Homo sapiens: one gene and its partners. The protein of the gene in region 3 interacts with the protein of the main gene of each other region in a biochemical or structural test. Each region holds a gene or a part of one and is shown on either strand. Other genes may lie near its edges. The genes, in order: GOLPH3, GOLPH3L and GALNT2.

Region 1 (10,363 bases), on a different chromosome or scaffold from region 3:
CTCGGGAGGCTGAGGCAGGAGAATGGCGTGAACCTGGGAGGCGGAGCCTGCAGTGAGCCGAGATCGCGCCACTGCACTCCAGCCTGGGTGACAGAGCGAGACTCCGTCTCAAAAAAAAAAAAAAAAAAAAAAAAAAATTGGGTGGCATCAAAAAGATAAGGTGAGGCTGGGCCCGGTGGTTCACATCTGTAATCCCAGCACTTTGGGAGGACGAGGAGGGAGGATCACTTGAGCCCAGGAATTTGAGACCAACTTGGGCAACACAGCAAAACCCCATCTCTACAAAAAATACAAAAAGTAGCCAGGTATAGTGGCGCACGCCTGTAGTCCCGGCTACTTGGAAGGCTGAGGTGGGAGGATCACCTGAGCCCAGCAAGTTTGAGGCTGCAGTGAGCAGAGATCACACCACTGGACTCCACCCTGGGTGACAGAGCATACCTTGTCTCAAAAAAAAAAAACCAAAGCTGAGGAAAAAAAAAAAAAAAACCAAAGCTGAGAATATGGAAAGGTGGAGAGAACTGCTGACCACAAGGGCTGGAAGAGGTCAAGGCCTTTTGAGTTTTCTGATTTGGAGCATCAAGGCGTAATGAAACTTAATATTTATTGTGCACCAACTATCAGGCACTTTACATGTGCTATTTTATTTAATTGTGACTGGAGTCATTTTGGAGGCTTGGAGGCTACTGATACGTCTGGAGGCTAAGCAGTATCTGGAAAAGAGGAATCATGGAACCAATCCCAAGGATTCTTTAAGGAAGACTCTGGGCTTGACCTAAAAATCAGAAGTCGGGCCAGGCACGGTGGCTCACGCCTGTAATCCCAGCACTTTGGGAGGCAGAGGCGGGCGGACCACGAGGTCAGGAGATCAAAACCATCCTGGCTAACACGGTGAGACCCCGCCTCTACTAAAAATACAAAAAATTAGCAGGGCATGGTGACGGGCGCCTGTAGTCCTAGCTACTCGGGAGGCTGAGGCAGGAGAATGGCGTGAACCCGGGAGGCAGAGCTTGCAGTGAGCCGAGATCGCACAACTGCACTCCAGCCTGGGCGACAGAGCGAGACTCCGTCTCAAAAAAGAAAAATAAATAAATAAAAAATAAAAAAATAAAAATCAGAAGTCAAGTGGTACTTCAAGTTTCCAAATTTCCCAAACCAGTTTTGCCAGGAATTACAAAAAGGAAACTGACCAGAGGTTCAGAACAAAGGTAGAGATAAATACACCTACTATGTGCCCATAAAAATTAAAATTTTTAAGGCCAGGCGTGGTGGCTCACGCCTGTAATCCCAGCACTTTGGGAGGCCAAGGTGGGCGGATCACGAGGTCAGGAGATAGAGACCATCCTGGCTAACACGATGAAACCCCGTCTCAACTAAAAATACAAAAATTTAGCCAGGCGTGGTGGCAGGCGCCTGTAGTCCCAGCTACTCAGGAGGCTGAGGCAGGAGAATGGCATGAACCCGGGAGGCGGAGCTTGCGGTGAGCAGAGATTGGGCCACTGCACTCCAGCCTAGGCAACAGAGCAAGACTCCGTCTCAAAAAAAAAAAAAATTAAAATTTTTAAAAAAATACACGCATAGATGAGCATCTGAATTTGAGTAAAACGTTCAGTAAGCCCAGCATATAAAGTGCAAGAGAATCAAGAAATAGTAAAAATAATGGAAATATTAAATACTTGTCACTTGTCAAGACCACTATAAACTTTAACTTACTTCTCTAGGCTAGGTAATTACCCATTTGCATTTGTTCAGCACCATGTGGTTTTCAAAGCACTCACATATGCCAACACATTGGATCCCTACAACTTAGAGGCTTTCGGACAGAACACAAAAGTAGGCCCATGGCCGGGCGCGGTGGCTCACGCCTGTAATCCCAGCACTTTGGGAGGCAGAGGCGGGCGGATCACGAGGTCAGGAGATCAAGATTATACTGGCTAACACAGTGAAACCCCGTCTCTACCAAAAATACAAAAAATTAGCCGGGTGTGGTGGCAGGCGCCTGTAGTCCCAGCTACTCGGGAGGCTGAGGCAGGAGAATGGCGTGAACCCGGGAGGCAGAGCTTGCAGTGAGCCAAGATTGCACCACTGCACTCCAGCCTGGGTGACAGAGCGAGACTCCGTCTCAAAAATAAAAAATAAAAAAGTAGGCCCATTTTGCCCAGGAGAAAACTAAGGTTCTAAAATTCAAAATATTTATTCTAATTCTTTCAACTACTCAAGGGCAAGGCTAGGTGTCAAGAACACAGCAGTCTTGCAGGTCCTGATCCAAAGCATCCTCCCTATGTACATCCTTACTGCACCTAACACATACTCCCATAAAAGTTAGTAACTCAGAAGAGGCAGGCAGGATAAAGTTAATAATTCACTTTATTGAAATCATTCGCAAATCTGTCTTCTATGCAGACTGAATGCTCCTTAAAAGCAAAAAATTTTTCTTTGTGGCCGGGGGCACAGCGGCTCACATCTGTGATCCCAGCACTTTGGGAGGCCAGGAGTTCAAGACCAGCTTGGCCAACATGGTGAAACCCCGTCTTTACTAAAAGTACAAAAATTAGCTGGGCATGGTGGCATGTGCCTGTAATCCCAGCTACTTGGGAGGCTGAGACACAAGGATTGCTTGAACCCAGGAGGAGGAGGTTGCATGAGCCAAGATCATGCCACTGCACTCCAGTCTGGCGACAGAGCATGACTTGGTCTCAAAAATATATACATATATATATATATTTTTTTTCTTTGTAACCCCAGCATCTGGCAAAGGGAATGAATGGCACAGAGAAGCTGTTCAATACTTGGATTAAACGGAACATATAAATACTAAATAACCTCTAATTTCACTTTAGCTACACAACATGGTATAGACAAAAATTAAATGGTATACTCCATTCAGTGACTGAACTGAAATTTAAGTTCTTAAGTGTTATTTCTGAGGTTATTTTGTTAATACGGTATAAACTGTTTAGCATTTCCATTTAAGAAACTGGAACTAGAAAATGAAACCAGAGTAAAAATAACCATTAGCAACTTTTACATACAGTTTCTTAATTTCTAATCTGTCCCAGAAGGTAGTGGTGGAATACAAAGTTTGCCTATATATTATCAATAAAAATAACTTTTACCTTAAAACTTTAACTCATAAGTTCCTACACGCAGTTCAGTATGCTAAAATTGTTCCTCTTCCTACTGAACTACAAGCCAAATTCTATTGCAATAAAAATTCCTATCAGAGAAAAAGATTTCTAAACCTCAACTAAGCACAAGCTTATAATTTTCCATAGTGACTTATTTCAATGTTTCTCACCCTTTATTTCATCACTGTTCCCTTAAGAAGTACTTCCAGATTTTTTCCTCATTATCTTCTCCCCCATGAAATTTTAATATGATGGAATATACATATTTGTTTGTACACTGTAAGTGTGCCTTTTTATACATAAGAGGAGTAAGATTCTTTTTTTTTTTTTGAGACGGAGTCTCACTCTGTTGCCCAGGCTGGAGTGCAGTGGCGCGATATGGGCTCACTGCAAGCTCCGCCTCCCGGGTTCACGCCATTCTCCTGCCTCAGCCTCCCGAGTAGCTGGGACTACAGGAGCCCGCCAGCACGCCAAGCTAATTTCTTTGTATTTTTTTAGTACAGACAGGCTTTCACCATGTTAGCCAGGATGGTCTCCATCTCCTGACCTCGTGATCCACCCGCCTCAACTCCCAAAGTGTTGGGATTACAGGGGTGAGCTACCGCGCCCGGCCAAGAGTACGATTCTTTCACTACCACGCCCAGAACCAAGTTTCACTCCCTTGGCAATGACATTACCACACTGGGAATACATAATTTACTTAATAAAGCCAGTAATCTACTTAATTAATACAGTAAATGTATTAAGTAAATTTATTTAATAAGTAAATTTACTTTAATAAATAATATTAGCTTACTTAATAAGGTAAATTATGTATTCTTTTTTTTTTTTTTTTTTTGAGATAGTCTTGCTCTGTTGCCCAGGCTGGAGTGCAGTGGCATGATCTTAGCTCACTGTAACCTCCACCTCCTGGGTTCATGTGATTCTCCTGCCTCAGCCTCCCGAGTAGCTGGGATTTCAGGTGCATACCACCCTGCCTGGCTAATTTTTGTATTTTTAGTAGAGATGGAGTTTCACCATGTTGGCCAGGCTGGTCGCTAACTCCCTGCCTCAGGTAATCCCCTTGCCTCAGCCTCCCAAAGTGCTGGGATTATAGGCATGAGCCACCACACCTGCCAGGGTTAGGTAAATTATGTATTCTTAATGTGAGTAATGTCATTGTACTGAGTGACTGCCAAATGCCAGCCTGAAATATATGACATCAAAAAATTATAGAACAGGCCAGGCAGGGTGGCTCATGTCTGTAATCCCAGCACTTTGGGAGGCCAACGTGGGTGGATCACATGAGGTCATGAGTTTGAGACCAGCCTGGCCAACATGGCGAAACCTTGTCTCTACTAAAAATACAAAAAGTACCCCTGTGTGGTGGTGAGTGCCTGTAATCCCAGCTACTCAGAAGGTTGAGGCAGGAGAATCGCTTGAACCCAGGAGGCAGAGGTTGAAGTGAGCATAGATTGCACCACTGCACTCCAGCCTGGGTAACAGAGCAAGACTCTGTCTCAGAAGAGAAAAAAAAAAAATTCTAGAACAGCAACATAATTTAGTTTTGTAGTTTACTATATGAGCTTTGACACACAGAACTAAAATGAATGAACTTGAAGACAGACATGTTCTTCAGTGAATTTGTACTTAGTAAAGGGCCTCTCACAGAGCATGTGCTCAGTAAACATTTGATGAATGGATGAAAACTGTTAGAATCCTAGATGTGTGGTAATCCTAGATTAGAAGCAGTTATGCTGCTTCTAAATGTCATTTAGCAAGATGAGAACCTCTAGACAGGCCACAGAAATGTGGACTTCGTATCTCAAATCACTTAAAATTCAACTCGCTACAACCCTGGAAACCTGGAATTTTCTGTAGTTAATTTTCAGGAAGGAAAAAGAAAAGACGAAAACCTTAAGCTAAAACAAACAGTTCCTGTTTGGTAATTTTTAACCTTCCTGATTCACTAAATGCTTTGAGTATCTAATGAAAGTTCTGTCCTCTTTCCCCAAGAAAACACACAACTGCAGAGAATTCACAAAGTTTCTCAGCTCTGTTCACTCCAATTTAAGAACTTCTCCATTAAAGGAATATGTAAATCAAATACAATGCATTAAGTTTAAAAATAAGTAAATTTTTTTGTTGTTGTTTAAAATGTTATTCTTAAAAGTGACCAGAAACATCCTTGTTGGCAATACACTGTACTTTAATATTAGTTGTGTTTTTGCAGATGAGAGGTTTACCAAACGGGAAGAGAAATAGCCTATGTTCTAAATATATTTGTAATACCTAAGTCAAAAACCTCAAAATGTACTAGATTACATTGTAATACTGTACAATGCTATTAAAACAGGTTGCAGTCTTCCCAGCTTTGATAAGAGAAACCTGAAGCCAAAAACATCAATTTCAAAATGAAGCCAGGTTTCCACTTTTGGCACTTGTCAGGACACTTACTAAAAAGCAGCAGCATGGCCGGGCACAGTGGCTCATGCCCAGACCTTTGGGAAGGCGAGGTGGGCGGATCACTTGAGGTCAAGAGTTCGAGACCAGCCTGGCCAACATGGTGAAACCCCATCTCTACTAAAAATACAAAAATTAGCTGGGCATGGTGGCAGGCGCCTGTAATCCTAGCTACTTGGGAGGCTGAGGCAGGAGAATCACTTGAACCCAGGAGGCGGAGTTGCAGTGGGCCAAGACGGTGCCATTGCACTTCAGCCCGAGTGATAAAAGCAAGACTCCATCTTAAAAAAAAAAAAAAAGCAGGAGGAGGACAAGCACTGTCTTTTTGTGCTGCTTCAAAGGGAGACTCACAACATGAAGATAAATCCTCTAAACAAAGACTACAGCATAGTTTTATACTATTTAATCTGATTAATGGCAGTAGAAAAGTTATGCTGTTAGAAGGGGGGGGGAGTTTGCAAAGACATAAAAAAGTGTACAGCCAAAAGCTTAACATTATGTACCAGAACAAGCATAATGCCTGATGCCTCCAGGGTATTTAAGATTTACATGTAAGATGATATTATAAAAGTGTATTTCTTTAAATATCAAAAAAATCCCCCAAATATTTCAAAATCTATCAAAATAACTTCAAAATACAATTCTTTTGTTTTGTTTTGTCTTTTGAGATGGAGTTCCACTCTTGTCGCCCAGGCTGGAGTGCAGTGGCGCAATCTTGGCTCACTGCAACCTCCGCCTCTCAGGTTCAAGTGATTCTCCTGCCTCAGCCTCCCGAGTAGCTGGGATTACAGGTGCTCGCCACCATGTCTGGCTAATTTTTATATTTTTAATAGAGACAGGGGTTCACCATGTTGGCCAGGCTTGTCTTGAACTCCTGACCTCAGGTGATCCATCCACCTCGGCTTCCCAAAGTACTGGGATTACAGGTGTGAGCCACCGCACCCAGCCTTCAAAATACAATTCTAAAACGTAATTCAAATGCTCCATACAAGAACTCTCAGGTAGTCCAAAATTAACAAATATCAAATATTAGTATAACTTATGAGATGAGTTAGTGAATATTTTGACCATATTGTAAAAGAATCCCAAAGCACTAAAAAGTAATTTCAACAGTATAAAATCTTGTTGAAAAGGTATAATAAGCAGACCAGGCGTGGTGGCTCACACCTGTAATCCCAGAACTTTGGGAGGCCAAGGCGGGAAGATTGCTTGAGGCCAGGAGTTCGAGACTAGGCAACATAGTGAGACCACGTCTCTACAAAAAAAAATTTTTTTTTTTAATTAGCTGGGCATGATAGGGTGCGCCTATAGTCCCAGCTATTCAGGAGACTGAGGAGGGAGGATTGCTTGAGTTCAGGAGGTCGAGGTTGCAATGAGCCATGATCACACCACCACACTCCAGTCTGGAAGACAAAGCTAGGCCCTGTCTCAAAAGAAAAAAAGTACAATCAAATAGTTTAATGAACTTCAAAAGTAATTTCTGAGATCCTGTATATCTCATACCTGTGTTTAAACACCTGAAAAAAATAGATAAAAATTCAAAACTTCAAAAAATATGAAGGAAATATCATTTGTCTTAGAAACAACGAAAATTCATTAAAAACTCAGAAGCCTTTATTATATTTTAAATTACTAAAACTCAGCACATCTGGAAATTCTGAATACTTGTTGACTGAATTTCTGATTTACAGATTTGATATGTAGAGATGGTGGACATCACCACACGTATAGAAAGGAAAACAATTTTTGTTAAGTTATACATCTTCATCACTATTATACTTCAAAGTAGTGACCTTGGGAACCTTATTCCAAAAATGGAAAACATCTTTGGAGCCTGTGTAAAAGCCACACAAAAGTCAGTTCTATCATTTTGGTTAATCTTAAGTATTTTACCCCATTACATATTATTTACCTCAAGTACCTACTTATTTTTCAAGACATAGAGTTAAGTTACTGTATTACAGTTCTTGTCTACAAGCATTAGAAACATTAGTAACTGACTCTGGCTATCTTTAAAAAGCAACTTTACTGGAAGGCTGTTGAAACTCACAACACTGAAAGATGACTGGAAAATCAGACTGGAAAAAAACAGTGCCAACAGACCAGAGAAAGCAGCTCAAAGAACCATGCCAAAGAACAGTCTGATCCACACGCTGACATGACTCTGGAAAGGTCTCCAAAAAACCCTACAGCTCGTTATTCTCTCAAGATCCAAAGCCCTGAAAGAAAACATATGATTGGACAAGTCTGGCTGCATGACAAAACAGCAGGGGAATAATATGCTTCAAGAGTGCATCCTAGAGCCGGTCGCAGTAATCCCAACACTTTGGGAGGCTGAGGCGGGAGGATCACTTGAGGCCAGGAGTTCGAGGCTGCAGTGAGCTATGATCTCGCCACTGTACTCTAGCCTGGCGACACAGCACAATCTGTCTTAAAACAAAAACCAAAAAACACAACAACAAAAAAAAAAACAGGTGCGGTGGCTCATGCCTCTAATACCTGCACTTTGGGAGACTGAAGCGGGAGGATCACTTGATCCCAGGAGTTCAAGACCAGCCTGAGCCATGTGGTGAAATCCCTGTCTTTATAAAAAAAAAATTTTTTTTTAATTAGCTGGGCATGGTGGTGTGTGCCTGTGGTCCTAGCTCCTCGGGAAGCTGAGGCAGGAGGATCACTTTAGCCCAAGAGGTTGAGGCTGCAGTGAGCCAAGATCGCACCACTGCACTCCAGCCTGGGTGACAAAGAAAGACCCTGTCTCAAAAACAGGCAACACACTATGGGGAAACCCTAAAGTAATACAAAATAAAGCGAAGACCTGGGGAGGAGTTAATAAACATCCACAGCAGTACAATCAGAACCATCATATGGAATGACTACTTTTCCATTATACATGAAAACACTGAAGCTCAGAAGGCTTAAATTATATGTAAAAGCCAAAGAATACACTTTGGACAGGACTATAGAGCCTCTCTCTGCTTCTGCTGTTCCATAGGCATACTCCAAATTATACTTGGCCACTGAAAATAATTAAATCTAACCTTAAAAGACTAAGATTTGCCACCAATGAAGACATTCAAACATATATGACACCAGTTATTTGTGGTAATTCTCAATAAAGCATCCTGAAAATATTCTATGGAAAGCATCTATAGAATAAACACACACAGGGAAAGGAAAATACCTGGCACTTTTGCTGTCCCTCCCCCTCAAACACTGGGTCAATTAAAGAAATACTGCTAATTACTTGGCAGTTGAATTTAGGTGTAAACTATCTGCCATCCTTACTGTGGTCTTTAAAGAGTTACTTAAATACTTATGCACTGATTCTCTGCCCAAGTGAGCATGAAAATCTTCTGAGGGGACTAGCCATCCCTGTTTTATAAAAGCAAAAAACAAATATCATTGGTTAAAAAAAAAAAATCTGAAATGTGTAAAGAAAAAAAAAAAAATCAATCACAATGACTTTAGACTCACTCCTAACAGGTAATCTGAAGCCAGACCATCTGCTTATTCAAAAACTGAACCTTCTGTTCAGCAAAAAAGAGAGGGAGACTTGACTCAGAATATGTCAAAGTAATTTTTTAAATATTATAGATTATAAACATGTTAAAAATAAATTGGTAAGACAATAAGAACAAAGGACAATCTCACACGATATGGATGAATCTCACATTGAACAAAAAGCAGACACAAAGTACAAAAAACTAGGCAAAATTAATCTATGCTGAATTCTAATATTAAGCCAGTGGTTACCCCTGAGGAATGGGTAGTGACTGGAAAGATACTCAAGTGGAGGGCTAGGGCTTCTGTTTCTTGCTCTAGGTACTGGTTTAACAAGTATATTCACATAAGGTTATTAGCTCACATATATAAAATATTTCCAACATTAATGATTTGCTTAAATGTAAAGTTTAGCTTTTAAAGTTCTTAGGAGAATCCAGACATTAAAAAGATAAATGCTGAAGTAAAAATCAGTTAAAGCAATGAGTTAGCATAAACGCCTGGGCTCAGGGTAAGACAGCAATTCCTGCCTCCTAAAAAGAGTACTATAGGTTAAAAACATGGTGGCGAGCCTCCCAAGGGAAAAACATACCAACAGATAAGTTGACAGGGCTGGTTATTAGAGTGTAAAGACATGATGAGTTGGCTTGATGGCATGCACCTTGTATTCCCAGCTACTCAGGGCGGATCACTTGAGCCCAGGAGTTTGAGTGCAGCCTGGGCAACATCTTGAGACCTCCATCTCTTAAAAAAAAAAATTTTAAAGATGTGATGAAAGGAAAAAATATATAGGCTAATCCCTAAAACCAAAACCTAAAGCAATACAAAATCCCAGTAGTCTCAACCCCACCCCTCAACTCTCTGGACTTGCCTAAAAAAAAAGAGAAAAAATTTCCCCATGTGGTTGCTGAAATCAGGAAGAAATGCTCACAATAAGCTAGCAAGCATCTGGACCTTAGCCATGACTAGCAAAGTATAATGAGTGACTCTTGATGCAAAATAAACAGAACACATGGTTTCAATTACCCGCCAAATAACTTTAAATTGTTTAAATTATGTGAGTATGGTTAAACTTCAACAAATTATTTAGATTATCTTCTTAAGACCCAATCACCGAAAAACAGCATGTTAATATGCTTCACCTTAAACATTTAGAGCAAGGGTGTCCAACCTTTTGGCTTCCCTGGGCCACACTGGAAGAACTGTCTTGGGCCATATATAAAATACACTAACACTAGCAATAGCTGATGAGCTTTAAAAAAAAAAAATTGCAAAAAAAATTTCATAATGTTTTA
Region 2 (10,271 bases), about 80 Mb from region 3:
ATTTAGCATAATCCTAAGCACATAATGGGTGTCCTCAATCACATTAAATATTGATTAAATGAATCTATTGATAGTTTGAGAGATAAGAAAAAAATAAGTACAGTTGGGAATCAATTTAATATTTTTAGAGATAGTTATGTAACTGGCCTTTTGTAACTACTACTATTTAAATAAATCACAAAGTTTGACCTCTTCTATTCATTTACACCTAAGGATTTATTGTCTTTTATTCTTCCTGAGCCAAATGAAAGCTAAATATTTGTTAACTATCCTCAAAAATAAAATTAGAGCAATTCAAAAGGTGGTTAATTGTTATGTGCTATTATTTATTATTTTTTGAGGCCTTGCTCTGTTGTTCAGGCTGGAGTGCAGTGACACAATCCTGGTTCACTGAAGCCTCGACCTCCGAGGCTTAAGCCATCCTCTTGACTCAGCCTCCTGAGTAGCTAGGACTACAGGCATGTGCCACCATGTCCAGCTAATTTTTTTGTTTTAAATTTTTTGTAGAGATGGTGTCTCACCATGTTGCCCAGGCTGGTCTTGAACTCCTGGGCCCAAGCAATCCTCTTACCTTGGCCTCCCAAGTGTTAGGATTACAGGAATTAGCCATTGCATCCAGCCATCTGCTTATTTTGTACAGTATCTCACCAATATGTTAAGTACTCACCATGGCCATAGCTCTTAATGAGCTGCTTTATTTTTTATTCTATTTCCTAAAATTTATATTAACCATTATAAACACATGAAGACAAGCCCAAAAGCAAAAATTCCAGTGCATAAGGTCAGCAGGAAATTAATCATTCCTATTCAAAGCTAAAACAAACCAAATAGCTTTTAGTTCTATATCCTCTTTTTATACAGTCAGTGACTGTTTCCTAGGTAATGTGTAAACGTCTCAAAAGAGTATTTATATCACCTAATCTTCAGTCCTATTCTGACATTCTCTTGGAGAGCTGGTTTTGCCTTTTCGTTTATTTGCCTTTTATAAAACTGAAGGCTCATCAACTTCTCAGCAAACAGGAAAATATATTTCCGGGCAAGAATTTCTGATATACCTACATCTTGGCCAGGTACACATAAGCATGTCTCTAATATTAGTTTTAACAATACACAGACTATAACTGGTCTGTAAATTTTGTTCAAGTTGGTAATTTAACAAGAAAAAAAGTAAAAAGGAAAATAGTAAATAAATGAAAGGCAAAATCTAAACAACAATGGTATTTCCAAGTCGAAGAATTATGTAGAAAAGAAGAGCTGTTACTACTTGTATGCAGCCAATTCACTTCTAGCTAAGGATAATTATCAAAGCCAAATTTAGTACTTTTAAAATCTAAAATAACATTCTAATTTTGTATGTTTTCAAAACTGAGGCCAGTAATAAATATACCTCTTTCTTTTCTTGCAGGCGGTGGGCGAGGGGGGGCGGTTATTTAAGGCTTTCCTGGAAAGAAAGCAGATTGTTTAAAATGTTACCTTCGTAACTTCTTCATGAGGGAATAGTGTGATGAGAAAACACAGCAAAAAGTTACAAATGAAGGATGATGATGTATACTAGTAGAGAAGCCAGGGAAATTTCTGGTTATATCACAAGACTCAGGACCTTAAGACTAACTGTACTATAAAATAAATGTTCCATTAAATAAGGAGACATTTAGGGAAAAAAGAGAAAAGCTAAAATTATTTTTAAAAATTTTCAAAAATTAAAATAATCCTCAATTGTTTATGTATGTGTGTGTGTGTGTGTGTGTGTATATATATATATATATATATATATATATTTTTTTTTTTTTTTTTTTTTTTTTTTTTTGAGGCAGGGTCTCACTCTGTCATCCAGGCTGGAGTGCAGTGGTGCAATCTTGGCTCATTGCAACCTCCGCCTCCCAGGTTCAAGTGATTCTCCTGCCTCAGCCTCCCGAGTACCTGGGATTACAGGCACCCGCCGCCACACATGGCTAATTTTTTATTTTTAGTAGAGACGGGGTTTCACCATGTTGGCCAGGCTAGTCTTGAACTCCTGGCCTCAAGTGATTCACTCACCTCGGCTCCCCAAAGTGCTGGGATTACAGGCGTGAGCCACCGCGTAATCCAACTGTTGATATTTGCCTTATAAAGATGCACAGAGGAAAATAAAAAATTATTTCTGCTATAAGAAACCTACCAATTGTTTATTTCTGTAAGGCAACTAATCACACATGTTCCTTGTCTTTTCATGTAAAAGACTATTTCTCCTCAAAGCTGAAGAAGACTTCAGTGTGTGGGCCCTTGTTCTTACTTTAATAAACGGTATTATTTCGCCTTTAATCTAACTTGGGAAACTACAAGTACAAAACTTTATACTATATCCTCCTCTCCTGTATCTTCTAAAATTTTGGAGTAATTTTGTAATTAAATACACTTCACGTAATTCTACTTCTGGATTTTTACCCTCCAAGTATCGGTCACTGTCCCAACTCCTCCATCTTCCAGATGGTTAGAGCACAATTCTAAGACCAATTTATTATTAAATATATTCCATTAGGTTACTTCCTAAAACATTCCAATATTTAATAGTCTTTGAGATAGCCTAGCAAACCTAACTGCATTACCTCTTTATCTTTTAGTCCCAGAAGCAATACTTCTTCCATAAGAGTAAGGCGGATATCCTTAGAGTCTCCAGAATCTTCATTGTCTGGACTTTTCTCCCAATTACTGTCTTCCTCACTTTCCATCTTCTTTTCAGAGTTCTTGCTTATTTCAGTGCGACGGGCCCGGTGAGTTAAAGTGGTCATTCTCACCTGTTTCTGGAGGGAGTGGTGAAAAAAAAAATCCATATGTATGCTTATGTAAATAAATCATATATTCATACATGCATACTAAACATCCATACAAATAGGAAATATTTACAGATTTAAATATAGAAAGAAAGGAAGGAGTAATGACCAGAAAAAAATGGGTGGGTAATACAGTATCTTTTCCAAAGTACAATAGCTTGGACTTCACAGATGGCACTGACAAAAGATCAAATGAGTAATTCTAAAGTCCAGTAGAAATGCTCATCTTTCAAGCCTGTTGACTTCTTTTTTTCTTTTTCTTCTTCTTTTCTTGAGAGGGAGTCTTGCTCTGTTGCCCAGGCTGGGAGTGCAGTGGTGCGATGTTGGCTCACTGCAACCTCCGCTTCCCAGGTTCAAGTGATTCTTGTGCCTCAGCCTCCTGAGTAGTTGGGATTACAGGTGTGCGCCACCATGTCTGGCTAATTTTTGTATTTTTAGTAGAGATGGGGTTTCACCATGTTGGCCAGGCTGGTCTTGAACTCCTGACCTCAAGTGATCTGCCTGCCTGGGCCTCCCAAAGTGCTAGGATTACAGGCATGAGCCACCAGGCCCGGCCAAACCTGCTGATTTTTTCTGCATAATCTATAAAGAAGGAGTGAATATCCACCATTGTCACTCCTCTTTCACAAAATGGATCCCAAGTTAAGTAAGATGGAACAACAAAAAATTGTGAGCATCCAGCCCCAAAATGCATATAATAATTTGTATCTAATTTCTATAAACGTTCCATGGTACTACATTATAAAAAAACACAAAAAATAGAAAGTAAAAAAGAATACGAAAAACTAAATAGAAATACATGTTCTATATTTCCTTCCCATACCCTAATGACTCATTTCATGTACTCACTTTGGAGATCACAAGTCTAGACGATAACATTCAGAAAATCATGTGTAGTAATTCCACAGTCAGTAAACTTAGCAGCTCTAGTCCTAGCTAGCCATATCTTGCAAATACACAAGGAGCTGCAAACAAAAATTACTGGCAAGAGAGTGTTGAAAGATTAACAAATTTTCTCAATTTAAAAAAAAAAGTCAAAGAACATGTCTTTTATTCTATGTACTACGGTCAAAAGAAACTGCACTAAATCATTTGTGATAAAGTTTATAGTTAGCATACTTTATTTTATATAAATCTAGATATCAGTTTTTAAGATAATATATAACAAATATTTTAAATCAGCAATTATATAAAGGAGTATCTTTTTCAAGATCAAAATAATGGTATTTAAGAGTTGCTATGACTGGACTCGTTTCTACTCCTCTAGCAATATTTCCCATTGCTCCTAATAAGTAGTGTTGCCAGACTTTTTCTCAAAAATGTCTCATGCTTTCTTTCTGCTTCTGCTCCTCTGTACTTGCTGGGGTCTTCACCCTTTTCTCTTCCTCTTTACATTCTACCCATTCTTTAAAGGCCTTGTGAAGGCCTTTAAGTGACCTCCTCTTTTCTATTACCTATGTGTCTCATGGCCACTCCCTCAGCTGTTTCACAGAGCTTTATTTATACTCACTTCCTTTAAAGTATTTATTATAGTCTTTCTCTTGGTATAGCTGTCTCTCAACTGTAAACTTCTTAAGAACAGGGATATTGTCTTCTTGGGTTTATATATTCTCCATAGCAACTAGCACTGTCTTTAACATTGTTATTGCTCGATAAATTTATATTGATTAAAATGAATACTCAGAAGTGCATGTGAACATTTAAAATAGAAATACAAATGAAGTGAGCTACAAAAGTTTTTTTGTACAAGGGTATATTTCAAATATAATTTGTTATGGGAGGTGGGAAGAAAAGTGAAGGAGGAAGAGAACCATGAAATAAATTCTTAAGCGCACTAAGCCTATCTGGCACTGTGAATAGGGACTATTTCCTAAACCAATCCAAGAAACTTTAAACCTTCGCGGGGCAGGGGGGGAGGGGGAGAGGGGGCGGTTTCTTTGAGAAATTAGTTTCATCTGCACATTTACTAGTTAAAAATCCTACTTGAAAGAAAACAAATGGCCCAAATGAATACAAACCTTTCCCTCCCATAAAATAATAATTTTAAAAAATAGAGGTTTTTTTTGGTGGGGGGAAGGGACGTTAGGAAATGTAATTTTCTCGTTGCTTACCTGATGTTACTCCTGGGTTATGGCTGGACGCAGGCTGTAGCTTGTGCTGTATTTTAGAAGGACACCTGTTCTCCCCACCCCACCCCCGTCCTAGTAGGTGAAAAACTTAGCCACGCAGAGAGCACAAACTTCCTGATCCTTCGATGCAGAGAAGGAATAACACATCAGCTTCCTCAGGATCACTAGGCAACCTACCTTGGTGTTTCTTCATTGCGCCAATCAGAAATCACCAAGGTTGAGTCCCGCCAATCGGAGCTCACAGGGGGAGGCTCTCCCCCAGCTATTCTGTTGCGATCCAGACAAACACCACCAAAAGGAGGCAGGTTTGCGTTCAACCTGACAGCTGGTCAATCCAATGAAGGAACCTTGGTGGAAGAGAGGAAAGAGGGCTGCGCTCCCCACCCCCATTAAACCAGCCAATCAAAGCGCTGAGTGAGCTAACATGGGCTGCCAATCTCGAAAGGTTTCTGTGGGTTAATTTCAGCGTAGCAGGTGTGTTGCTGTAGTAGCGTATACTGGGACAATTAAGTGAGATGTGTTGGGATCCAAGCAATACAGCTAAAAATAAATAAATATTTTTACATTGGTTGTTTCTGACAGTCAGTTTATCCTTGACTTGACTGTTCCAGAAAAACATGATCTGGGTCAGTTTGTGTACGTTTATATGGTTTACCTTAAACAGGATGAATACATTTCTACCATCGCATATGTACCAGCATTCCCTATAGCGCTTATTACTGACAAACCCATGGATGTGTATGTTTTTGGAATATGGCTGCTGAAACTACAAGCGGCAAACAGACCAAGTTTTAAGTCTTCCTTTTTCTAAAGCAAAGAAAGCAGGCAAGGCTGGAACTAGCTCCCAGGTTTCTCATTAAAAGCACAGCATTTTTCATACTACCACTCAAAAATTCTAGAAAGTGTGCTCAACTCTTCTTGCAAAGTAATAGCTACCGAAATCATCTAAAAATTAGTATTCCCTATCCCCCCATCCTCCTACCAGCCTTTCAAATGAATGAAGCCATATTTCCTGCTACTTAAATAAAAATTAGAAGCGATAAAAGGGCCTACGTACTGAACAATATTTTATTTATGCTGCAAAAAATGCCATACTTTAAAAATCAGTCTTTTTGTCCTGTAAAAAAAAGCATAGTAAAGGTAAAGCACCAATTCTTAAATTGTACATTATATATTAAAATGTTAATACATTATGTCAAAATATTGAAGAACATTGTTTTAATAACAGCACAATGACAAAAGAGCCAGTTAAATGGTATAATTTTAACATAAGTAAAAAGTGAATCCATACCAAATTTTAATACCAAAGTAAACATTACTGTTTAGAAAAATGGCATTAGAGGGCCTTAACAGTTAGTATATATTTAAAGGAAATATTAAGTAGGTAATGAACAAAATCAATTTTGAAATTTTACTTATTACCGAATCAATTATGACATTTGTACTTTTGCTTTTATTCAAAAGTTCTATTGGATTTATCTCAAGATTAAGGACCACAATATGACAGTCAGCCAAAAACTTAGTTTTAGTGTACAAACTGCTTTAAACTACATATACATCTTCAGAGTTAGGGAAATATAATATAGGGTCCTTCAGTTTAAATGGTGAGAAGAACTCTGCAAGCCTGCAGAACAAAAATAATTTTTATATATGTTCCTTTGGTTCACTAAACTTTCTCCTTTTTGGCACTGACTCTTGACTAGAAGAATCAAAGTGATGGAGGACCTGTCAAAAGAAAACAACTACTAAGAATAGATACTTTCCTGTTTAAATGTCTTTAATTGTAGATTTTTTCATGTATCTGAGATTTCTCTTCTTTTTAAAAAAATTTATGCCTAGCATACCTAGCATAACTATATCTGGGTTTCTTAAAAGTAGAGTAAAATTTATTATTAACATCTTCCAATGGCTGCTGAAAGTATGTACTTGCAAAATGTATAATCTTCAGTAGGGCTGCTCTAGAAGTGAGAAGATAGATTTAACATTATGTCCTCAAAATAGCCAAATATTTCAGAGCAATAAGAAGGGAAAAAAGATTTTAAAATGAACTACAAATAGAAAAACATTCTACCTTGGAATCATGTACGATTTAAATCATGTCTTGCTTTTGTACTCTTGAGACGTTAACATTTGAGTTTTAAAAATAGTCTTAGGTTTTCAGTTGTTTAATTCTAACCTACTAATAATACTAAAATATCTAGTTGGAAAAATATGAATAATTATCTCAGAAATGGCAAATACATTATCTGATTTGGTAAAATAAGGTTCTAAATATGAAACAACTATAGGGTTTAAGTCAGGAAAATATTTTTTTCTCCAGAGGTACTAGGAGGAGACCCTATATTTTTAGGGAACACATGTATTTAGTAAATTATCCTCCTTCTACTTCAGTTTTGATCTCTAGAAAGCTCAGATCAAATTTGTGGCCCAATTTCAGTTCTATATAAACAAAATGGCCTTAGTATTCTTGTACTGTCACTTTCTCATTCTATATTCTCTTATATTTTTCCTGGCACTGATTTTTTTTTTTTTTAAAGACGGAGTCTTGGTCTGTCGCCAGGCTGTAGTACAGTGGCGCGATCTTGGCTCACTGCAACCTCCACCTCCCAGGTTCAAGCGATTCTCCTGCCTCACCCTCCCGAGTAGCTGGGACTACAGGCGTGCGCCACCACGCCCAGCTATTTTTTTTTTTTTTTGTATTTTTGGTAGAGACAGGGTTTCACCATGTTGGCCAGGAGGGTCTCGATCTCTTGACCTCGTGATCCACCTGCCTCAGTCTCCCAAAGTGCTGGGATTACAGGCATGAGCCACTGCACCCAGCTGATTTTTAATTTATATATTATAAATTCCTCCAATTACTTTAAATCATTCATGGAATGAGACAGGAGATGTTTACATGGAAAAAACTAATAAACCAACATAGGGCATCTTATTTCAAAATCACCTCGATTTTTAGAACAAAATATATTTAAACAAAATTTGAATATCAGAACTCTCAGGTACATCGAAAGATATCAAATTCATCATTTTAAATTTAATCTGTAGTAATGATATTCTGATCCTTCCCATTGTATTCAAACTATACATTATCATAAGACTTACTATTCTCCCAGATTCATGTTGACTTCTCTTCCGATTTTCTTTGGAAGATTTTACTGGTTGATTTCCATTTGCCTCCACAAAGATAGAATAATTACTAATTGGTTATTTCTCAAAGAACAGCCAACACTTGATTTTTCAATCTTATGCAACGATATGCAATATTTATTTATTTATTTACTTTTTAGGGACAGGGTCTCCCTCTGTCACCCAGGCTGGAATGCAGTGGCACCATCATGGCTCACTGCAGCCTGAAACTTCTGGCCTCAAGGGATCCTCCTGCCTCAGCCTGCCAAAGTGCTGGGATTACAGGAATGAGCTACAGTGCCCAGCTGGATATACAATTTTTTTAAAAAACAGCTTTATTGAGATATAATTTAGATACTATATGATTCACCCATTTATAAGTGTACAATTCAATGATTTTCAGTACCTTCACAGAGTTGTACAACCATCACTACAATCAATTTTACATCACTTTCATCACCCCACAAACAAACCCCATATACCTTAGCTATCACTCTCTTATTCTGCCATCCTCCCACCAGCCTTAAGACTGTCTCAATAACTTTCCCAGTTCTGACTTTCAAATGAAAGGAATAATACAATATGTGGACTTTTGTGAGTAACTTCCTTTAATTAGCATGTTTTCAAGGTTCATCTAAGTTGTAGCATGTATTGGCACTTCATTTTTTTTATGGCTGATATTCAATTGTATGAATATACCACATTTTTTAATCCATTCATCTGTTGATGTATATTTAGGTTTTTCCCATCTTTCGGCTATTGTGAATAATGCTGTATATATAGTTATTAAAATGAATATTGGAAAATGACTAATGATTAGGTGTCATACAACTATTCTCTAAAAGGATATACTTCTTTTCTGATGCTTGAAATGAGCTTTCCAATGATAACTTCCTTAGTATATATAATAATGAATATTTTCATTTCTTGCCCTTTTCTAACCACAATTCAGTAATAATTCTCAAAATCAGGAGTACACTTGCTCAGAGTTCATATCCAAAAACATGTGCAATTTCAGAAATAAATTTATGTCCCTAAATCATCTTAATGTTACATTACAAGGAGATCTTGCTTAATAATTTTTAAAATGCTGGTCTCTATCCCTATATCCTAGTAAAGGTTATTCATCCTACATATAAACTGGCTAGGATGAACATTTTGCTTCTAGAAGTAGTAAATCTTGACATTCCTTTATCTCTTGCTTTCATGAGATACTCATTTGAATGCTGCCTTCTGCCAGTTCTAACTTCCCATTGAGAATAGGGGTGGGGGAAGACACTTAAAAATGGCACTATAATGAGTAGTGTTCCAATAAATGTTTAATAACCAGCTCTAGGAGAGAAACAAACCTTGAGGCATTTGCTGATTTCTGTGCTGTGAATACTACCAACATGTCCAATTTAAGCTACCAACATGATATCTCTGAGTGGGGAGTTGGGAATAAATGTTCTAGCACACCACTAACAGAGTGAGCTATTTATTTCCTAAACTTTAGATATTTTATATATTTTACAGAATGCTTTTTCTTCACCCCAATGAACCTTTGAGAGTAACTTAAAGGTCTAAAATCAAATATGAATTTTGATTTAGTATAATTCATACCAAAAGCTAAAATAAAGCAGTGATTTTTTTCCCTTAAGAATATGAGATTCATTTTATACAAGATATATACAAAAGATTATTTTGTAATGTCTTATTAACAAGATACTCAATTTATAAGACTGAGCATGGTGCTCACTTCAGCAGCACATATGCTAAAATTAGAACGATATAGAGAAGATTAGCATGTCCCTTGCACAAGGATGACATGCAAATTCATGAAGCATTCCATATTTTTCAGAGTGAACAGAGAACCTACAGAATGGGAGAAAATTTCTGCAATCTATCCATCTGACAAAGGTCTAATATCCAGAATCTATAAGAAACTTAAACAAATTTACAAGAAAAAATAAACAACCCCATTAAAAAGTGGGTAAAGGACATGAACAGACACTTCTCAAAAGAAGACATTCATGTGGCCAACAAACATATGAAAAACACTCAACATCACTGATCATTAGAGAAATGCAAATCAAAACCACAATGAGATACCATCTCATGCCAGTCAGAATGGTGATTATTAAAAGTTAAGAAACAACAGATGCTGACGAGGCTATGGAGAAATAGGAACACTTTTACACTGTTGGTTGGAATGTAAATTAGTTCA
Region 3 (10,363 bases):
AAGGGGCAAAGGATTCGTCAGAAAACGTGATTTTAAAACGAGCCAGATTCATCCATTTCCCTCCTTACAGTAGTAGCAGCTCGCAGGTCACAGGGTCTGACAGAAGAACCTGGGTGCTGGGGGCTACGCACACCCTGCTCTGGCCTGCACTCCACAGCCTCGCACAGGTACCTAAGGGGGTTTTCCTCAGGCTCCCCCCGAGCGCCCACCGTGAAAGACAGAAGCGTGCGGAGTTACTCCAGCGTGGGGGCACGCTGCCCACTCACAACACATCTGGTTGCATGGCAGGGGAGGCGGGAAGAGAAGACCTATAGGGCAGCCCTCCAGCCAGGCTTCCACCTCGGGGCCGCTGTCCTACAGTGCACACATGTGGGGCTCCCGCCGGGGAGGAAGACACACAGTGGCCCCTTTCATACAAGACACAGGGAGGAGCATGGCACCGGCACAACCTCCCAGGGTGGCTCCTAACTCCAAGGCCGCCGCTGTCCCACCGAGGGGCCTGCAGGTGTGCCTAACTGACGCTTTTCTCAGACTGCCAGGCCGTGCCAGCCTCTCTGAGACTGAGCATCTGTGTGTGCGGCGCTGGAGAAGGCGGCCAGGAGTGGAGGAGGAAGCAGGGCACCGACCACAGAGTGGCAGGGGTGACGAGGAACATTCCTGAGCACCCAGGTAGAAGCCAGGCACCTCTCCCCGTTATGACTTTCAGTTCATAACTGTCTGTGGTTTAACAGGACCCCAAGGCTCCTGTCTCCCGCCCTGAATCCTCAGTGTAAATGAGCAGGTATTGTTTGGTTCTGACCCTTCCTAATTCTTTCCCCAAAGCCCCCTGAAGCAGTCATCTTGGCCAGGCGGGGTGTGGGAGGGAGCTGCGGGCGGGGCAGGACTCGCTGCCTGGCTGGAGCTCCCCAGGCCAGCAGGTGTGCAGGACTGTGAGCCAGGCCTGTGCCCTGGCTGACGGGCTCATCCCTGACACTGCTGGCCATTAATTCTGAAGGCCCAGCGTGCAGGGCTCAGATCACAATGAAGCCAATACTAGCGTGTGACAGCTGCCTGGCATCATTGGTCTGCCCTGTCGCCAGGGGGCAGCGGTATTGCTGGCTCACACAGAGCTATGGGGTATGTCTTATATTCCTTAGAGAAAAGAAATTTAATGTAAAAAGACCCAAAGTGATATCTGTCAAAATAAGTAACCGCTCCAGGTTCACAGATACGCACAGCACGCAAGGTGGATTCTGACGCACAGTAGGGACTCTCAGGCTGACGCCCAACAGGGATGCCGGGGCCGAGGCCGGTGGTCTGGAGGAAGCCCCCCAGCTGGCCACAGCAGTAGCACCAACTGGCTGATCGGGCTCCAGGGGACAAAGGCCACCTCCTCCCTCTGTGAGAAACTGGCCCCACCGGGCTCTGGCCCCTTCTCCCGGAAGCTGCGAACGGCTTTGTGGGGAATATACAAGATGACGATGATCTACAGAAACCATAGGGAACTGACCGTACATTCTTTCTCTATATAGCTTTATATTTAGTGTCCCACCATAGAAAACTTCATCCTCAATATAGCAAGTACATGAGGTGGAGGGGAGTCTGGCCCAGGAAGACACTTGCGAATGGAGGAGCAGAGAGAGGGACTATTGACGTAAACCTGCCACGTGACACGACTCGGCTTTGTGGAAACCATACGTGATTTCGAAGGGATTGAAAATGGAGATTTCAAGAGTTCTCCTCGCTCCCCTGGGGCATGTGTGCCCCCTCCTCCCGCCCTGTCCTCAGCTCGCACGCATCCGTTCAGTTGCTTCTACCACTCCCCAGTCGGTTGTCGCTGGGTGTCACTCAGTTGCGGAGCCGGCAGAAGTGAAAGCTGGAAGGAAGAGGGGCGCTCCGGCCTGGGGAAGGGGGCCCGGCTGGGCTGCACCGAGAGGAGGGGGAGGGCAGTTCTCGCTTCTTGCCGCTGCTGTGTCTGCACAGTCGTCCGTGCCTTGCCGAAGTTTGACTTTCAGACCATGATGGAATACTGAGGTATATTAGTTTCGCGGAAAGTTTAAGAAACATAATCAATAATGTGATCACCAGACTCCACCCAATGGTGCAGGAGACAGGACGGCAGGGCCTCCCGGACCCTCCTACTGCTGCAGGTTGAGCGTGAACTTCCACTGCTGCGAAAGGGCCGGGCCACACACCTCCACGCTTAGGCCCCCGCTCTTGGCCGTGCGACTGTCCAGGCACAGGTTGCTGCCCACGTGCCTCAGCTTGGAGTTGCCCTCGATCTGTTCCCATTTCTGCAAGACACAGGAGAGTGCCTTAGAGTGTGGGCACAAGCAAAGGAGTACAAACAGATTCGTGTGAATTCAGGACCTTGTGGCTGCATTAAAAACTCACAGATAGACACGTTTTTCCCAGCCTCTCATCTGAACGGCCGAGGAGCTTGCAGCAGCCCCACAGGAAACCAGCCACAGGTGCTGCTGGGACCCAGGAAGGAAACATATTCTCTGCCTTGGATCAAAACTCAGAACGTCTCCTGCCCCAAACTTTCTGTGGGTGTCCCCTCCTCTGAGCCCCAGAGCTCTGGGCACCCACCCCTTCGTCATTAACACAGGATTTGATGTAGGGGAATTTGCATGCCTTCGTATGAAAGCTTGATCCAGTGATGGTTCACCCCAAGAAGGGATCCACACAATGCAGGGCCAGATCCTCCCCTGGCTGTTGGAAAGCAGCCCTGCCTGGAGGCCTTGGTCTGGGCACCTCCATGCTCCCACTTAGGGCTTTCTGCTCGGGGGAGCCAGAGGAACGGTGTCAGGCCAAATGTCAGGAAGAGAGATGGTTGTTTGAACAGAACATAGCATTGAGAAGCCTATTTCTATGTAGTCTGTTCTCTACTGGTGTGCAAGCTCCTTGGTGGATATGAGAAACTTGTCTCTGCTACCCTTGAGCCCCCTGGTGCTCTGTATGGCAGGGACCAATGTTTGCTGAGTTCTGAACATGCCGCTTGTAAAGTACAGGGTACGATGCCTCTTTACTAACACTCAAATCAAGCGAACAACCAAACTCAACCCACATACCCGTTACCCACCAACTAAGCCAGAATCAAAGTGCACAACCCAGCCTGAAGGAAATCTGAGGAGCCCTGTTTAGCAAGTAACATAAATACCCCTTTCAGCCTGAGTGCAGGCGGCTCACGACACTAATCCCAGCACTTTGGGAGGCCGAGGCAGGAAGATCGCTTGAGGCCAGGAGTTCAAGACCAGCCTGGGCAACATAGCAAGAACCCATCTCTACAAACATTTTTTTTAAAAAAAATTAGCAGGGCATGGTGGTGCATGCCTGTTGTCCTAGCTCCTTGCAGGCTGAGGTGGGAGGATCGCTTGGGCACAGGAGTTCGAGGCTGCAGTGAGCTATGGTCATACCCACCCCTGCACTCCAGTCTTAAGCAACAGAGTGAGATCCTGTCTCTTAAAAAAAAAAAAAAAAAGAAAGAAAAACAGAAAAATCCCCCTTTAAAAATCTCTAATGTTTGTTCTTAAAAAAAAAAAGTAACATTTTTTTCTTCCCCAAAGCTCGTTTCAAATAATGAAGTCTGTGGTTCTAATTAATTTTTTATACTGTGTGCACGAAAGCTCCTTCACCTAAGTATTTTTTGCAAATCCTTTTGACATTGCAGAATTAAATTTTCTCACTCCTGCCTCCCTTTCCCCTTTGACTCTGCAAATATGCACAACATATGAAAACATGGACGTGCCTGGAAACCAAATGTTCCAACTGGCAAAGCCAGTTCAGTTCCAAGATAAAATTTGCTAAGGAGCTTCCTCTTGAGGGGCCAGTGAGTGAGGCAGGGAGGAGCCGGTGCAGGCAGAGGAGCCCAGTGCTGGGGACCCGACCTGCGCGAAACACCACAAGGATGTTGTCACTTGTACCCTGCTTTCCTTATTTCCGTCCACCTGCTCACCTGGAGTTCTTGCCAGCAGGGAAAGACAGTGCAATCAGAGGAGCCGGGGAGGCTTTTGCTAAGTGCCTGTCATTGCCTCTTTCATTTCCAGCTCCCTCGTTGCTGTCAATCACCCCTCATGCTGTTTTTCCCCATTGTCATGTAAAGTGTGTATGTATTGAGGCTGCCCTGTTACTCTGAGCAGCCAGGAATCTTCTCAACAAAGAATTCGGAATGAACGGAATCTGATTCTGGCCACTGGAGGGACTGCCTGTCATGTGTCAAAGCATCAGCTAAATCAAGAACCTTAGAAAAACAACAACAAAACCCCAGCTCCGTCTCGCACAGGTGGCCTTGTGGGCTCTGATCTGTCTGTCTGATGGGATTGTGGTTGGGGGTGGGGAGCGCAGATTTTCAAGGCAGTCAGACTCTACTGAAACAGCCCCCACATCCTCTCTAATAGCCTGAGTCTTGGGGTTTAAAACCTAACAGATCCCCATTTATACATGCCATACATCCAGAAAAACTTATTATTTATAGGTCTTTTCATGCTTCACAAAGGTCCTAAGCCGTGTCAGTTATGGTTCCCCAAAACTGGGACTGAAGCAGAAACACCTGTCAATTCTTGAAATTAAGCAATATTGAAGTAATATTTGTTTTTTAAAAAGGTGTCAACTAAAGTCATCACTTTATCAATCCATTACATCCAAAGACATCTCTGCTCCGTTACATCCCAGGGGAATGTGTTTGAGACTCACCCAGTACTTGGCTCAGCAGATGCCAGCCTTGCCCTCGAGGAGCTTCCTCTCGAGGGGCCAATGAGTGAGGCAATTTCTAGGTGGTTTGGGTCCAAGCGGTGCTAGCCTTCTCTTGTTTAACAGGCACTCCCTTACACATTTTGGTATCAAGTCATCAACACAGATGGACATTTAGAGATGCGGATTGTGAGCAGAACCCTAGAGAGGGGCTCCCACTGCCAGGACAGGCTGGGACTCTGCAGAGCAGGGAAGGAGGAGCACCCAGAGCTGGCGCAGGGGTTTGGAGACAGACAGGTGAAAGAGGGCCCTCTGCAGGCGTCTCCCTGACAACTGGGGTCAGAACCGGGGACTCGGTCCTGGCCTTGGTCTTCCCAGATGACTCCAGGGTGGAGGCAATGACTTTCTGAGACTTTTCTGTTGTGAAATCAGGGTTAGACTAGAAGCTGGCTTAGGCTCTTGGCTCCAGTAGGTTCTGTGCCTCAGTTTCCCTACATCCCATCTATCTCTAAGGACCGACTGTAAGAACAGGGGCAGGCACTCCAAGTATGGGCATACAGGGAGGACCTTTTGTGCTTGCATTTCTATTCCTGACACTAACTGTTACCCCATGCCTTGAGAAAGGGTGTGTCCACAAGCTGCCACAAGGGAATACGTCAGAGAAAACCGGCTTACAAGGCAGGTAGAAAGTCTATTCTGAAATGTTTAAAGAAACTGTGTGTATATGTGTGTGTGTGTATATATGTATATATATGTGGTGTGTATATATATGTATATATCTGTGGTGTCTATATATGTATATATGTGTTTATATATGTATATATATGTGGCATGTATATATACGTATATATATGTGGCATGTATATACGTATATATATGTGGCATGTATATATACGTATATATATGTGGCATGTATATATACGTATATATATGTGGCATGTATATATACGTATATATATGTGGCATGTATATATGTATGTATCTGTGGTGTCTATGTATATATGTGGTGTTTATATATGTATATATCTGTGGCATTTATATATGTATATCTATGTGGCATGTATATACATGTATATATGTGGCATGTATATTTGTATATATATGTGGCATGTATATATATGTATATATCTGTGGTGTATGTATATATGTATATATATGTGGTGTTTGTATATATATATGTGGTGTGTATATGTGGTGTGTATATATATGTGGTGTTTACATATGTATACATGTGGCATGTATATATGTTGTGCTTGTATATCTATGTGGCGTATATATATGTGGTGTTTATATAAATGTAGCATGTATCTATATGTATATATATGGTGTGTTTATATGTATATATATGTGGCGTTTATATATGTATATCTATGTGGCATGTATATATATGTATGTATCTGTGGTGTGTGTGTGTATATGTATATATATGTGGTGTTTGTATATATGTATATATGTGGCGTGTATATATATGTGGTGTGTATATATGTGGTGTTTACATATGTATATATGTGGCGTGTATACATGTGGTGTTTATAGATGTATATGTGGCATGTATATATATGTATACATATGTGGTGTGTATATATATGTGGCGTTTATATATGTATAAATGTGGCATCTATATATACGTATACATGTGGTGTGTATATATGTATATATGCGGTGTTTACATATGCATATATGTGGCATGCATATGTATATATATGTGGTGTTTATATATGTATATATGTGGCAGGTATATGTATATGTGGTGTGTATATATGTATATGTGGTGTGTATATATATGTATATATATGTGGTGTGTATACATGTATATATATGTGGTGTGTATATATATACGTATATATGTGGCATGTATATATGTGTATATATGTGGCGTGTATATATGTATATATGTGGCATGTATATATGTATATATGTAGCATGTATATATATGTGGTGTGTATATATGTGTGTATATATATGCTCACATATATACACACATAGACACACACACTTGCATTATGTATCGAGTACCATCCATGTGAACATTAATCATTTAGAATTTTTGTAAATTGAAATAGAAAAAAGTATTTGATGAATAAACAAAAGTAGATAATTTCTCTTTAAATTTTCAGCGGCATAGGGAAGAGAATGAGAATATAATCAGAAATAAGCAACATTAGGTTTGTGGCTTAAGTCTAATAGGGCAGCTAGACATTATTCACAGTGATGCAAAAGAACACATAAGTACACGCAGAGATGGATGCTTTGAGAGGCAGCACAGAGCAAGAGGGCGCAGGCCGTGGCTACCCTGGTCTGGGTTAATCACGGGCACCCACGGGTGCCTGCAAGCCGTACCTGTCTGCTGTCATTTTCTCGGCAGCCCTGCAGCTTTATAAGAGAGCCCGGTGCCCGGTCCACCACAGTAAGGCACAAATCCATGTGCTTCACCGACTTCTCCTTCGTCAAGGCCCATTCCTGGAACACAAAACCAGAAGTCAGAGGCGTGCTATGCACCGGGCTGTGAAAGGAAAGAAGGGGCATCGATGAGGGCTCAAAAAGGAAATGGGTCACGGGGTGGAGCTTAGATTCAGAACCCCTGAGCCAACTGAGAACGAAACAATTACTTTTTGCCTAAGGGCAAATTTATAACATCAGAGATGTGGGAGAACCTCACAACTGAGCAGTAAGTTGGCTGAGTGATGTGCAGAAGTGCTTTGAGGACCTCAGTAACTAAAATAAAACTATTAACTATTTTAGCCCCAAATACAAGTTAGACTGCCTTGTTCATTTTTCTATAATTCAATGTGAGCTGTAAAAACTGTGGCACAAGCTTGGTTATACACCAGGTAGACAGTTGGCAACTGGTCCACCCATGCTATTTTGGAATGACTCTGCCCTCATGCAGGTATGGCCTGCAAACAGCATTGATGAATGTGAACTGTAGTAAATAACACATTGCATATGTAAGCAAAATATATCGTGTATAGCCTCCTAAGTGAATGCTAATTGATCTATGGGTGCTCATGAAGCCCTCTGAAAACTGGAGGAATAGATCTATGAATTTCTTTGAATACATTACAGCTAAATTTAATGGGGTGCTATGTGCCAAGCATTATTTTAAGCCCTTTATACAACAGCTCCATGAGGGCTATTATTATTCTCATTTTATAGATGAGAAAACTGAGCTAGAGAGTGTTTAAATAACACACCATGATGTTAACAAACAAACACACACATATATGTACAAACACACACAAGTTAAAGGCTGTGACAGGGTGAGAGGACAACCATTTTGGATACTAAATGAGACATGGTCCCAGGTGGCAGAGGAGGCCGGAGCCTGTTCCAGGCAGGGCCACAGCAGGGACTGGAAGGTGAGGCTTCTGACCATCACTCTCCATTTGTCCCACTCAAAGGGATGAACACCCCTTAATATCGAGGGGCAGCAAGGCCCTTTCCAGTTTAAAACCCCACAGGGACTCACTATCCACTTCCATCCCCTTCCTCTCTAAGCCCCAGCACGCTGCAGTGGCCCTCCCCTCCGTCTGTCTGTCTGTCTTTCTATCGGTCTGTCCCATGACCACCTGCTGCACACCTGTATGACACCGGCGCTGTCACAGAGCCAGGCTCCCTTTCTAGTGGGGAACATGAAAGACACACAAATAAATGTATTCTGCAACTTCAGGCACTATTATGTGCTATGAAGACACTGTTTTTTTCTTGGTTCTTGGAAACAGAGGTAAGGAAAGGAACAAATAGTGTTTAAAGAAGCCTCACTGTCTAGTATCTGTATCATGTTGGAACAAATAGTCCGTCATTAGAAAAACATTAAAAGGTGAAGATGCAGCCCGGTGTGGTGGCTCAGGCCTATCTATAATCCCAGCACTTTGGGGGCCAAGGCGGGAGAACTGCTTAATGCCAGGAGTTCAAGATCAGCCTAGGCAACATAGCGAGACCTTGTTTGTACTAAAAATAAAAAATAAGTTGACCGGGTGTGGCAGTGCATGCCTGTGGTCCCAGCTACTTGGGAGGCTGAGGTGGAAGGATTGCTTCAACCTGGGAGGCCGAGGCTGCAGTGAACTGTGATTGTGCCACTGCATTCTAGCCTGGGTGACAGACCGAGACCCTGTCTCCAAACCGAACTGAACCGAACCGAACCAAACCAAACCAAACCAAACCCTAAAGATTCTAGCATTCAGACCTTATACAACCACTGGCGGGATGCACCATCTCCAGCTCTCAGCATCAGCAGAGGGGATGCAGAGGCACGGACACCCGTCTAGGAATCAGTGAAGACACCTTCACCTGTCTGAAGACTTCCTCCTCCCCTAACAGGGAGGGAGGCTTGGGCAAGCCTGCTCACTTCCCGGGTCTTCCATTTTCTCACCTTTTAATTAGTGTTCCTCACATTCTACTCTGTGAGGAATCCTAGGAAAGACGGATTCTAGGTCAAATGAATTTGGGAAACAGACTTTGTGCTGTGTTTATCTCTCGGAAATTCAGTCTATTAAAGGCTCTGAAGAGTCCTAGAGTAGAAGCACCTGCTTGGCCTGTGCACTGTAGCATTCCAAACACGGCATGGAGGCAGCCCTGACCCACCCAGCCCTGCCGGCCACCTTCTCTGGGGAAGGCCACCCGACCCTGAGTCGAATCCCAACATTCTATGATGCTGTCATTCAACATGGGTGAGTTCCAGCCAGCTCTTCCAAGCACCCACAGGCACTCACGTCACCCATACTCTAGGACAGTGTGACATCATAAAAATAATTATTTGGTCTCTGGCACAATCACAAGGCTCCTAAAACCCTTGTCATTTCCTGAGCCACAGGGGTTTTAGGAGCATCTTTCATTCTAGTGTTTGGTCTTTGACCCCGGTTCCCAACAAACAGCTCCTACTCCCTTGGAATTTATTGGGTGATGGGAGTGTCTTGTTCTAATGAAGCAACTCTAATGGGCTCCTGGACGGGGCTGGTCACCAGAAAGACCAGGTTATGCTGAGAAGCTTGAAACCGTCAGTCCCCCGCCACCCCATCCTCTGGGAAGGGAAGAGGAGCTGGAGATCATGCCCATGTGATGAGGCCTCCGTCAAAGTCCTTGCACTCCGGGATGTGGCTGCCGGACATGCGGAGGCGCTGGGAGAGCGGCACACCTGGAGAGGGCGTGGAAGCTCCAACACCCCACCTCCACACCGCGTGCTATGCATCTCTCCCGTCCAGCTGCTCCTGGGTTTCAGTCTTTCCTAATGAACAGGTAAGCCACGAAGTAAACCGTTTTCCTGAGTTCTATGAACTATTCTTGCAAATGAATGAATTCAAGGCGAGGTCGCGGGAGCCCTGATTTACAGTCAGACAGCAGGTGACAACTTGGACTTGTGACTGGCATCTGGAGTAGAAGCATCTTGTGGGAGGAAGCCCATAACCCGTGGGGTCTGTGCTAACTCTGGGTAGGCAGTGTCAGAACTGAGTTGACAGGCATGACACTCAGTGTCCGCAGAGAATTGGAGAATTGGAGAATTGCTTGGTGTGGGGGGAAAAGCCCACAGGGCTGGTGTCAGAGGTGAGAAGTTTTGTGAGAGTATAAAGGAGGAAAAGCAGCTTTTTTCCTATTCACTGGGTCACAGAGTATGGAAGGTGTGGAGTGTAGAGAGGAAGCCGTGTGTGTTTCCCATAGGCAGATGGCGTTCAGGATGGAGAGGGCCAGGAAGAAG

The links.
Region 1: the proteins of GALNT2 (region 3) and GOLPH3 form a complex in vitro, tested with the Homo sapiens proteins (one study listed by BioGRID).
Region 2: the proteins of GALNT2 (region 3) and GOLPH3L form a complex in vitro, tested with the Homo sapiens proteins (one study listed by BioGRID).

Annotation. Positions count from the first base shown.
Region 1 is NC_000005.10:32,160,957-32,171,319, forward strand, and holds part of GOLPH3 (Golgi phosphoprotein 3), read right to left. Parts: intron 1-10,363. UniProt on the Homo sapiens protein: Phosphatidylinositol-4-phosphate-binding protein that links Golgi membranes to the cytoskeleton and may participate in the tensile force required for vesicle budding from the Golgi.
Region 2 is NC_000001.11:150,692,071-150,702,341, forward strand, and holds the start of GOLPH3L (Golgi phosphoprotein 3-like), read right to left. Parts: upstream 5,085-10,271; 5' UTR 4,922-5,084; exon of another isoform or gene 3,690-4,921; coding exon of another isoform or gene 3,660-3,689; intron 2,781-3,659; coding exon of another isoform or gene 2,769-2,780; coding exon 2,586-2,768; intron 1-2,585. Other genes in the region: HORMAD1 (HORMA domain-containing protein 1), read right to left, coding at 6,584-6,664, 8,042-8,113. UniProt on the Homo sapiens protein: Phosphatidylinositol-4-phosphate-binding protein that may antagonize the action of GOLPH3 which is required for the process of vesicle budding at the Golgi and anterograde transport to the plasma membrane.
Region 3 is NC_000001.11:230,271,213-230,281,575, reverse strand, and holds part of GALNT2 (polypeptide N-acetylgalactosaminyltransferase 2 precursor), read right to left. Parts: intron 9,907-10,363; coding exon of another isoform or gene 9,730-9,906; exon of another isoform or gene 9,466-9,729; intron 7,132-9,465; coding exon 7,012-7,131; intron 2,274-7,011; coding exon 2,118-2,273; 3' UTR 1-2,117. Other genes in the region: uncharacterized protein LOC124904542, read left to right, coding at 9,730-9,906. UniProt on the Homo sapiens protein: Catalyzes the initial reaction in O-linked oligosaccharide biosynthesis, the transfer of an N-acetyl-D-galactosamine residue to a serine or threonine residue on the protein receptor.